3 linked regions of the Homo sapiens genome follow. The protein of the gene in region 1 purifies or fractionates together with the protein of each later gene. This does not show direct contact. Each region holds a gene or a part of one and is shown on either strand. Other genes may lie near its edges.

Region 1 (3,653 bases):
TTGTCAAATATCAGTTGATTGTATATGTGTGAGTTTATTTCTGGGCTTTGTATTCTAGTACTTTTGTTTTGTGTGTCTATTTTATGCCAGTACCATACTGTTTTGATTACCATACCTTTGTAATATACTTTGAAATCAGGAAGTGTGATACTCCAGCTTTGATATTCTTGCTCAAAATTGCTGTGGCTCTTTTGGGTCTTTATAGTTCTATATGAATTTTAGGATTATTTCTTATATTTTTGTAAAAAGTGTCACTGTGATTTTGATAGGGATTGCATTGACTGTAGATTGCTTTGGATAATATGGACATTTTCATAGTATTAATTTTCTAAGTTCTTGAACATAGGATATCTTTCCATTTATTTGTTTTGTCTGCTTTAATTTCCTTCATTAGTATTTCATAGTTTGCAGCATGCAAGTCACTTACCTATTTGGGTAAGCTTATTTCATGTTAAAGTCACATGGGGAGTGACTGCTTAATGGGTACGGCATTTCTTTTGGAGTTGATAAAAATGTTTTTGAACTAGACAGAGGTGGTGGTGTATAACTTTGTGAATGTACTAAATGCCACTGAATTGTACTTTAAAATGGCTAATTTATTTGTTTTATTTTGAGGTGAAGTCTTGCTCTGTCTCCCTGACTGGGGTGCAGTGACATGATCACTGCCCACTGCAGTCTCCACCTCCCAGGTGCAAGTGATCCTCCCACCTCAGCCTTCTGAGTAGCTGGGACTACAGGCCCATTCCAGTGTGCCCAGCTAATTTTTTAAATTTTTTAGTAGAGGTGGAGTCTCACTTCGTTGTCCAGACTGTTTCAAACTCCTGAGCTCAAGCAGTCCTCCCACCTCAGCCTCTCAAGGTGCTGAAATTACAGGTGTGAGCCACTGCACCCAGCCTCAAATAGCTAATTTTATGTTATGTAATTTCATCTCAGTTTAAAAAAAATAAAATTAGGGATATATAAGTTGCTTGCATTAACTCACATAAATCAGTGAATATGTACACCTCTTTTCTGCCATTTTGTGTGAAAATAAGAAATTTTCCTGTGTCCACTTGGTGAAGTGTGTTTTTATTTCAGGGACTGTTTACATTCAAGGATGTGGCCATAGAATTCTCTCAAGAGGAGTGGGAGTGCCTGGACCCTGCCCAGAGGGCCTTGTACAGGGACGTGATGTTGGAGAACTACAGGAACCTGCTTTCTCTCGATGAGGATAACATCCCTCCAGAAGATGGTAACCACCCTTGTACATCTTTACATTTTTCCTTGTGAGTCTCTTGGGAGGCCCTGATGTGCTTGTCTGAATCCGATCCCTGTTCTAAAAGGGGAGATTGAAACTTTTTGATTGAGAGTGGAAAGGCTTCATAATGTAGCATATAGACTTTAAACTTCCCCTTTCTTCAGAAGTTCTGCGCATAATCAGGTTTGACGAGTGGTGGTTCCAGAATATCAGTACTTACAAAACCTTATGGAAAACGTTTTAAAGTGTCTGGTATCATGGTTTTATCCCTGTGCCTTTGATTCAGTAGTTTTTTCAGAGTCTGCATATTTAAAATAATCCCTAAGCATTCAGAAGAAGGCAGTCCGTTGACTAATTTATGAAATTGTTTTGGGAAATAGTTTTGCAGACCCATGTGTAATGTCCTCTCTTCGTAGCTGAACAAAGGGCTGGGAATGTATCCAGGAAAAGCACAGCATACCATGTTCCTTTTTTTCTTTATAAGTTGAAATCTTTCCTGAGCTGAATATTGTGTTCATTTTGGAGCACAGGAAAGAGTCCTAGACTATGGAAAGTGAAGTGAAAATAGGGAAAAAATCAGGTAGGTCGGAATGTGAGCACAAATAAGCGCTCAGATGGCCACAGAGTAAGCTACTCCATTGAGTATTGTTTGGGAAACTCTGCAAATGGGAAAGATCAGTGGGAAAACAAAAGTTTATTTCTTATGAGCTCTCAAAGCAAGGTCCACACCCGCTCCTACTGTCCCCCAACATACTGTTATTCAAATGTGTAAAAGGTTGAACTCCCACTCTCCCGTGATGCCCCAACTCATACAGACACAAAAGCAAAGGTGCTATCATGACCTACAATACTGTTTGGCCCCTCTGACCATTTTGGTCTCTTGGTTTTGAGAGGGACCGAAATGGCTGTTTTTAAGGACTCTCTTTTAGTGTATATAATTTCATCTGATGTGTGGTTTTCAGTCTATACAGATCAGAGCTGGGGCCTTTGTAGCCCTGGCTCCAGAACCTATTCAATTTCTATTCCTATTTCTTATACCTGCAAGAACTTTTCAGGAAAATGGGAAAACAGTGGCTCCCCCAAAATGTATCTGGGGTTCCCTGAAATTTGAAAGACTGTCGGTCTCTCTACTTGTTCAAGCCCCTTGGCCATTCCTTCAGTTCTGCTTTTGCCACATGTGTCTAAAGGGGAATGGGCAGGCTTTTGAGATTGTTACTCAGCATTAATGTAAAGACTTGACAGAGAGATCCTCTTTTTGATTGCCATTCCAAAATGGGAATATATCTCATTCTTTTAGGTTCTCACCTTGCAGCCTGTGGACAGAGCACACTGCCTCTTCCTTAGAATCCTACAAAATCCGACCCTTTTATTTTACTCCCGTACCTTTTATTTCTCTCCCTTTTCTAGCTTTCTACTCTATCCGGGAACTTAGGGAGACCTTAGTCTTCCTGATTCCATATTCTTCTAAGATTTGCCTCTGAAAGTTGCTTTTGAAATACACATTCCGGATGGGCGTGGTGCCTCACGCCTATAATCCCAGCACTTTGGGAGGCCGAGGTGGGCAGATCACCTGAGGTCGGGAGTTCGAGACCAGCCTGACTAACATGGAAAAACCCCGTCTCTACTAAAAATACAAAAATTAGCCGGGTGTGTTGGCGCATGCCTGTAATACCAGCTGCTCGGGAGGCTGAGGCAGGAGAGTTGCTTGAACCCGAGAGGCAGAGGTTGTGGTGAGCCGAGATCACGCCATTGCACTCCAGCCTGGGCAACAAGAGCAAAACTCCATCTCGAAAAAAAAAAAAAGAAAAAGAAAAGTACACATTCCTAGAGTCTGAAATTTCCTCTCTTTCTGCTGTGATAACCCACCAATAGGCGATGGACAACTTTTGGTGGACTCTCCCATGGAAGAGGTTTCCTTGGTGACAGAACATTCTTGAAAGAGAACATTAATTAATCTGTCACAGTATCATTCTGCTACATAGAGGTGCCTCTTGAAGCCACTGAGTAGAGTAGCCTGCATGTCCCAGTATGCTGAGAGAGAATCAGGACAGCCGGAGGGATAAGTGCTTCTGACCTTCTGGTTTCTGTGGAGTTTCCAGTGTCTCCCAAGGGCAGTGTGACAACGCTGGTTAGATATATGCTGATCATCCTCTTGGAGCCAGCAGTACAAGGTGTAGGAGTTTCTCCTGGGAAGAGCATTCTCCAAGTTCTCAACCTCATATCTGCGAACATGTTGACCAAACTGTTGCTCATACCACATTATTCATCCCATACGTGCAGTTGTACATTTTTCTTCAGTATGATTTTTATGCCTTTATTGAGGGAGCTTACAAAGTTGAATTAGGCATACATTTTTAAAGTTCAGTATAATTTGGTTAAGCCACTGACACTTTCATTTTGCCAATGTCATTGGTAT
Region 2 (3,653 bases), on another chromosome or scaffold:
GATTATTACACTTATGCTTAGAATCTAATCCATCTTCATCCTTCATTTCAAGACAAGATGACACTGAAGAATGACTTGAAGACACTGATACTTCAGGTACCACTTCAATTTGTCCGCTATTTCGGCTGCACCTTCTATTCTCCTTATGGTACTCAGGTTTCAGTGACATACATACTTCTTCTTTAACCTGACTCCTTTCTGGTTGTTTCACTCCTGCTTTAGCAGTAGATACAGTCTTCCCAGATGCTTTTTTTGTGTTACTTAATGGTGCTGCATTTGAACGCTTGGCAATAGTGCTCTGTCGCAAACTTCTTACTTGTTCTATCACAGGGGGAAAAAATAAATAAAAATACTTAGCTATTTTGTCATGTGCTTTTATTTCAATACAATTTAGAATATATCACTTCTTTATTCTGAGCTATAATTTGCTCAACAAAAATGTATTGAACAGTACTCATAATGGTGACATGATATATATACACATATATATAATTTAACATATGTCAAATTTTATATTTATCAAAGTTCTCTGAATTCTAGCAGGGGGAAAAGCCTCTAAAAAATTCAGACTAATATTATACCTTATTAAAAGAAATGTTTTCATCAAATCTCTTTTCCATAAAAAGTAACCTAGGAGTGACGTAAGTAAAATGAGCTTCCTTTACCATTAATGCCCATATTAAAGCAAGACCATCATGGATTTTTAAACATTAAATATTTCTAAATATATAAAACCAAATATATTCCAGTGCTAAAGAAACCTGAACTAAAAACCTCCTATCACAAACCAGGATCTGTGCGAGTTTCAAAATACAGCCTCAAACGGACTCTAATTCCTTTATCAATGTGCTTCCCTTAGGTCACCATTTTAGCATTAAAGCTATTCCTAAGAAATGATATCAACACAGAGTACCACATACAGCTCATCAAAAAAGAAACACAATTTAAAAGACTTAAACCAAGCAAATGTATCATAAGGAAAGTATGAAAATTTAAAAGCTTCCCACACAATGCTCCTAATAGTCCATTAAATGAAAAGAGTTTCATTTCCCTATTCTGATACATCCCCCCCTTGTATCAGGAGAAAGGAGAAACACAAAATGAAAAGAGCTAAAAAGAAAGAGAGCTAAATAATTCAGTAAGTACAAAAACAACCCACAAACTGAATTTGTCATTTATCACTGAACTGTGAGAATCTTTAAAAAGGTAAATGTCCAGGTGTTGCTCGTAGTTCTGATCTAGTATTAATAGCACACTTTCATTTTCAAAAGTATGCCCAATTTGAACAATAAAATTATATAGTCATCCTTATCTTAGAGACCCTTTCTAATTCCCATAGGACACAACAAAGTATCTGAGTATTAGGTTAAGTACTTAATAACTTTTAAAAATTACTTGGTGGGTTATGAACTATTTATCACATATTCAGTTATAAAATTTTTTTAAATAACTAAAATTTTAATAAAGCTTTGTTTCAATATTTAGGTGATCTTTAAAGCTTTAAAGACAGATTATAGTAATTTACAGCTCTATTCATCCTTGAAATGAAACAAATGAAGGATTTTAACACTTATTACACATTAATAAATAAAGATCTTTTAACACCCAAGCGGTTGCTAAAAATGACAAAAGAATAGTATATTCAGCTGTGAAGGATTTTCAGATAAAAAGTGGTTTTCCAATAGGAAGCAATTTATTAAGCAAAGGCTAAAGTCACTTTTTCTCCTCTAAATATTACCTGCCTTAGTTTGAAGCCTGATTCTATAGGCAAAAAAGTTTTATTTTCCTACAATGTTTATTCTATTCTTTTCATTTCTCAAAGCCACACGTATATACCAAATAACTGATTTTGAAAATGTATTAAAAACATAGATCAAGAAAAGATGATGAAATAAATACATGGATCTAAATTTATTCACTTCTCAAAACCCTACTGAAGCTATAACAGCGGGACATTTTTTGAAAAGTCCAAAAGGCAAGGAAGAACGAGAGAGGAAAAACCAGCAGCAAATTTTGGAAACCAAACAAGAGATGATTACCAAGTATTTGACATAAGAGACCCAAAAGTAATTAATAAAACACTAGGCTGGCAGTGTTGGCAAAAACTAACACCATTAACACCTCAAAAGTCTTAAGACTTGGTGGTCCCAGATGATTCTAAAGTGGGAATGAAGACAGATGCTTAACACTTAGAAGGGCTGAAAGCTCTTTAAAAGTAGCAGTTAGATTTCTAGATCCCTCTTTCCCCTACTCCATTTGTTGGGCAACTGCCCTTCCCTAGTCCTGAGCCAAAACTCGTAGCTTATTCTCTGGAGATAGTAAAGCAAGGTTTCTAGGCTAAAGAACATGAGGCACAGTTGAGACTGGCTGTAAAGTACATTGAAATTTGTAAGATTAAGTGAATTTGTATATACTGAAATCTGAGAAACCCCAGTCAGTTTCCCTTACAGGCTTCCATAATATGCTAGCAATCTAATAAGTTATGGAAAATAACCTAAATTCTGATAGGAAGGGTTCTGCCAAACAACAGTACAGCCAGATTGCTATACACTGACGCTCATAGCTGGTAAAACCCAATCCCCACACTTAGAAGTTTCATAATTTTAGTTCCCTACCCTTAAACATGAGCAATAATCAAGGGTCAGACATTTCAGGAGAGCATCTAGGAAAGATGGAGGCCAAAACCTTTTTAAACATTTTTTTTAAAATAATGCAACATTGAGAAGTCAGAAACTATGAAAGGAGACAAAAACTGTTTAAAACGCCATTAGTATCTTAATAAAGACAAAAGAAGATACTACATCCATGAAACATGAATAGAACACTACAGAAAGGACCATTCTCAAAACAACAACAAAAAGAACATTTAAGAATCAGAAGTACAAAACTTGACTGAAAAGTTGGAGGATAAATATGAGAAAATTTAAGCACGTTAAAGAAAAATTACAAAGAGGTAGGAAGTAGGCAAAATAAAGAAAACAGAGGGACCAGTCCCTGTTATGTAACAAATAATAAAGGTTCCAGAAATCAAGAGCTAACAAAATAAAGAGAGGAATTAACAATGAAATAATTTGAAAAATTTTCCCGGAATTGAACAATAACATTTTTCAGACTAACAGGATCTACTGAGTGTCTTGAGCTCCATACACAAAATACACCAAAACCAATACATATCATCATGAAATATCAAAACACCAAAGCTGAAGAGCAAGATTCCACAAACTTCCAGAAGAAATCAGATAACATACACTCCTACACACACACATCAAAATAAACTTCTCAACAACCCTGAAGTTAGAAAAAAATGGAGCAACACCTTCAGAATTTCTGAAGGAAAATGATTTCCAACCTTGAATTTTACATCCAACCAGACCATGATTCCAGTATGAGAATAGACTAAATACAAGGTAAACATACAAGGTTTAAAAAGTGTATCTCACAGCTCCTTTTTCTCACAAAACTACTGGAAGAGGTGCATCACCAAAATAAAAAAATTGAATCCAGAAAGAGGAAATAGGAACTACAACAAAAGCACAAAGCACAGACTTCCAGAAAAATGGTAAAGGGAGATCCCTGAACAGCTTTGCATCAGGCTCATAGGACTAACAGGAGTCTGTCTACATAAGAGGGGATCAGAAGGCTCCAAGAGGTGT
Region 3 (3,753 bases), on another chromosome or scaffold:
AAAATACAAAAAATTAGCCAGGTGTGGTGGCAGGCACCTGTAGTCCCAGGTACTTGGGAGGCTGAGGCAGGAGAATGACGTGAACCCAGGAGGCGGAGCTTGCAGTGAGCCGAGATTGCACCACTGCACCACAGACTGGGCAACAAAGCGAGACTCATCTCAAAAAAAAAAAAATGCTCGACCTCACCAGTTATCAGTAAAATATAAAATTGTTTCAGGCAGGGCGCGGTGGTTCAGGCCTGTAATCCCGGCACTTTGGGGGGCCAAAGCGGGCGGATCACGAGGTCAAGTGATCCAGGCCATCGTGGCCAACATGGTGAAACCCCATCTCTACTAAAAATACAAAAATTAGCTAGGCGTGGTGACACGCACCTGTAGTCCCAGCTACTCAGGAGGCTGAGGCAGGAGAATTGCTTGAACCCAGGAGGCAGAGGTTGCAGTGAGCCGAGATCGCGCCACTGCACTCCAGCCTGGAGACAGAGTGAGACTCTGTCTCAAAAAAAAAAAGTTTCATTCATTAGCTTGGCAAAAAAATTAACACCAATAATATTCAGCACTGACAAGGACTTGGGAAGTCACTTTGTAGTATTTTTCAGAGAAAGGGTACATACCCTTTCACCATATGATGCTACTTTTCGGATGGTATTCTGCAGAAATAACAGTACCTGTACAAAAGGATTTATGTATAAATATCTTTACTTAAAATTACCTTTGCTGTAACAATATTTCTAATGACAAATACCTGGAAACAACCTGAGTGCCATCAGCTGACAAATGACCTTATTGTCTGACTTGTAGCCATAAGCCTGTATTATTTTTATAACTGAAAAAAATTAAAGAGAAAAAACATGACAGAAATCAAACACTAACCTGAAGTCATCGTCTTCCTTTTTTTCTTGCTCTGCTCCCTCTTCCTTTCAGTTAGGCTCTCTTCTTTTTTCTCTCCATTTTGGGGCTTCTGATGTGTTTGTGATGCTCCACACACACCTGGGACAGACTTCTTGTTTCCAAAAAAGTCCAGTCCCTGAAGCACCTCCGAAGAATCAAAGTCATATTTCCTTTTTCCTATCTAAAACCCAAAAAATGTAAAATGAAACCTACTGACAGAATACCATTGCTTTCATTCAAGCAAGACTGTTCAATGACTCCTCATCTTTTCTACCCTTTCACCAAGTATCTGTCGAGCTAACAGGTGTCTGGACAAATGGAATCTGAAGAGACCTTCTCTGACCTCATAATAGTAACAAATTAATATTAGCAATGAACACATATATGCTTACTAAATGTCAAGCAGATTTCTAAGCATGTTTATACATATTAAATTGCTTCACATTTACAACTCTATAAGGTAAATAGCAGTATTACGAATGAGAAAACCAAGGCATTCGGAAATTAAGTAACTTGAGGTAGGTCTAAAAATGAGTAACTGGCAGACTTAGCATTTAGACCCAGATAATCTGGCTCCAGAGTTCATACTCACCAGTTAGAGAAAGAAGAAACACATGTCACACGCATATACACATCCAAACAACAAAGTAGACATTCAAGATTTTCCAGAATTGGGCCCCAATTGACCTCCCCCGATGTATCACTCACTACTTCTCTAGGTAAGAGCCCCCATTTCTTAATCGCTCTTCTCATTGGTTACTTAAGCCATGGGGTTGAAGCAATAAAAAGAATCACGCCCAGTACAACTATACGCATGCCAAGCCAAACTTGGGGAGACTATAGTAAGAGAATCTGTTTTCTCCATCTTTGGTTGTTTCTGTTTTCGAAATTCCTTTCCTCTAGGTTCGGAGAAAAAGTTCCTTTTGAAAGGAGGATTCCAACTTTGCTTTGAATAAGAGGGAGGAAAGAGGGTTTCCGTGCCAGGCCCAACTAGGTCTACAACAGGATAGTTAAAGAGCTTATTCAAAAGGCTTGAACCGAGCAGCCGTGCAGGCAAGCCGAACACAAAAGGAAGCAAAATACCCCAAGGGTGGCGAGAGCCAGGCCACGGGTGTCCAAGTGCGCCGGCCTCCCCCAGCAGCGGGTTCATTCCCGGGCTCCTGCTCCTTCTCAGTTACTCGGCCCTCGGTCCCTTGGGCACAGTACCTGGAATCGAGCTGCGTCTGCCGAGAAGCGTCTCGTGTCGAATTTGGCCCCCGCGCCGAGCCGGCGAAAGAGATCGTGGACGTCCATCTTTACCCAGAAAGCGCCACAGTTCTACGGCGCCTGCGCAGACTACTTCCCAGGCCCCGGGCAGCGTCGGAAGAGGGCGTGAGCATAATTGGCTCCTGTAGGCGGAGCCTGGCTGGGTGAGAAACGAGGCTATTTTATTATCGTGTACTCCGTCATTATTTATCTTTTTTTTTTTTTTTTGAAACAAGGTCTCTCTCTGTCGCCCAGGCTGGAGCGCAGTGGCGCAATCGCAGCCTCGAACTCCTGGGCTCAAGTGATCCTCCCATCTCGGTCTCCCAAACTGCTGGGACTACAGGCGTGTGTAAATTCTTTTAAAAAATATTTATCAGTATCCTCTTATGTTGGGCACTGTTCTAGACTTTGAGGGATACTATAGTAAACAACATCTTAAGATTCCTCTTCTTACGAAGCTTACATTTTAGTAGGGACAACAGATATTGTTAACAAATAAATAAGCAAAATCTCTGTAAAGTAATAAGTGCTATAAAACAAAAAGGTGTAATTGATAGAGAAAATGATGAGGGAGCTGACTTAGTGAAATTCACTCTGTTGAAGTGAAAACTTGAGCTAAGAGGAAGCAACCTGTCCAAGATCTGGGAACAGCATTCCAGATAGGGGAAACACGTGGCTGAAGGGAAAAAAATTGGAACCTTGAGGGAATAGAAAGAATGCCGGTGCGACTAGAGCCAAGTTGCAGTCTGATAGAGTAGTACAGATAAGGTTGGAGGGACAAACAGAAGCCAGATCTCACAGAATCTTGTAACAAGGTCATAGTAAGGAATTTGGACTTCCACCTTGGGAAACTATTTGAAAATTTTTATGGAGAGAAGAACATGATTTAGTTTATCACATTTAATTTTTTATATTTATTACATCTGTACGAAATTATTTACTGCTTATTGCCTCTCCCTCTTCTGGAATGTAAGTCCCTGAGCACAGGGATATACTTTGCTTCGTTATGTATCCCCAGTTTCTGTGCACTTTGGTGAATGAATGCGTGGATGTTTCATAAAGGATTACACTGGCTATTTGGAGAATGGACCATAGAAAAGCTAAGAGTGGAAACAGGTTAGTCAAAGTAGAATGATGATCATGGCTTGTCTAGGTTGGTATCTGTGCTGAGAGAGATAAATGGATTAGATCTGGCATGTATTTTGGAGGTAGAGCTAAACGTACCTGACGGATTTTATGCAGAGGTGAGAGAAAGGGAGGAATCAAAGATCACTCCTAGTTTTTTGGCTGAGTAGATGGCATGCCATTTACTGAGCTAAGAAAGCCTGAGAGAAGAAGGGCTTTCTGGTACAAGTGAGATACGGAGGATGGAATCAATTGTTATGTTTTGGACGTGTTAAGATGCCTACCTAGTTGACTTTAAGTGGAGACATCCAAGTAGGTAGTTGGTTCTGAATCTGAAGCTCAGGAACAAAAATTAGGGCTAGAGAAATTAATTTGGAAGTCATCAACATATAAATGATACAAAGGAGTTGTACCATATAAGCATTTAACTTATAAAAATTCAGTTATATGTATTTGACCAAAGAGAATGAAACATACTTGAAATTGTATGGGTGA

The links.
Region 2: the proteins of ZNF677 (region 1) and PHF3 purify together in Homo sapiens (affinity purification with mass spectrometry; one large-scale study listed by BioGRID and IntAct). This does not show direct contact.
Region 3: the proteins of ZNF677 (region 1) and DDX52 purify together in Homo sapiens (affinity purification with mass spectrometry; one large-scale study listed by BioGRID and IntAct). This does not show direct contact.

What each region holds. Positions count from the first base shown.
Region 1 is NC_000019.10:53,241,322-53,244,974, reverse strand, and holds part of ZNF677 (zinc finger protein 677), read left to right. Parts: intron 1-1,077; coding exon 1,078-1,231; coding exon of another isoform or gene 1,232-1,265; intron 1,266-2,534; coding exon of another isoform or gene 2,535-2,581; exon of another isoform or gene 2,582-2,644; coding exon of another isoform or gene 2,645-2,718; exon of another isoform or gene 2,719-3,109; coding exon of another isoform or gene 3,110-3,191; exon of another isoform or gene 3,192-3,653. UniProt on the Homo sapiens protein: May be involved in transcriptional regulation.
Region 2 is NC_000006.12:63,680,797-63,684,449, reverse strand, and holds part of PHF3 (PHD finger protein 3), read right to left. Parts: intron 322-3,653; coding exon 1-321.
Region 3 is NC_000017.11:37,641,240-37,644,992, forward strand, and holds the start of DDX52 (probable ATP-dependent RNA helicase DDX52), read right to left. Parts: upstream 2,208-3,753; 5' UTR 2,182-2,207; coding exon 2,095-2,181; exon of another isoform or gene 1,699-2,094; intron 1,070-1,698; coding exon 871-1,069; intron 1-870.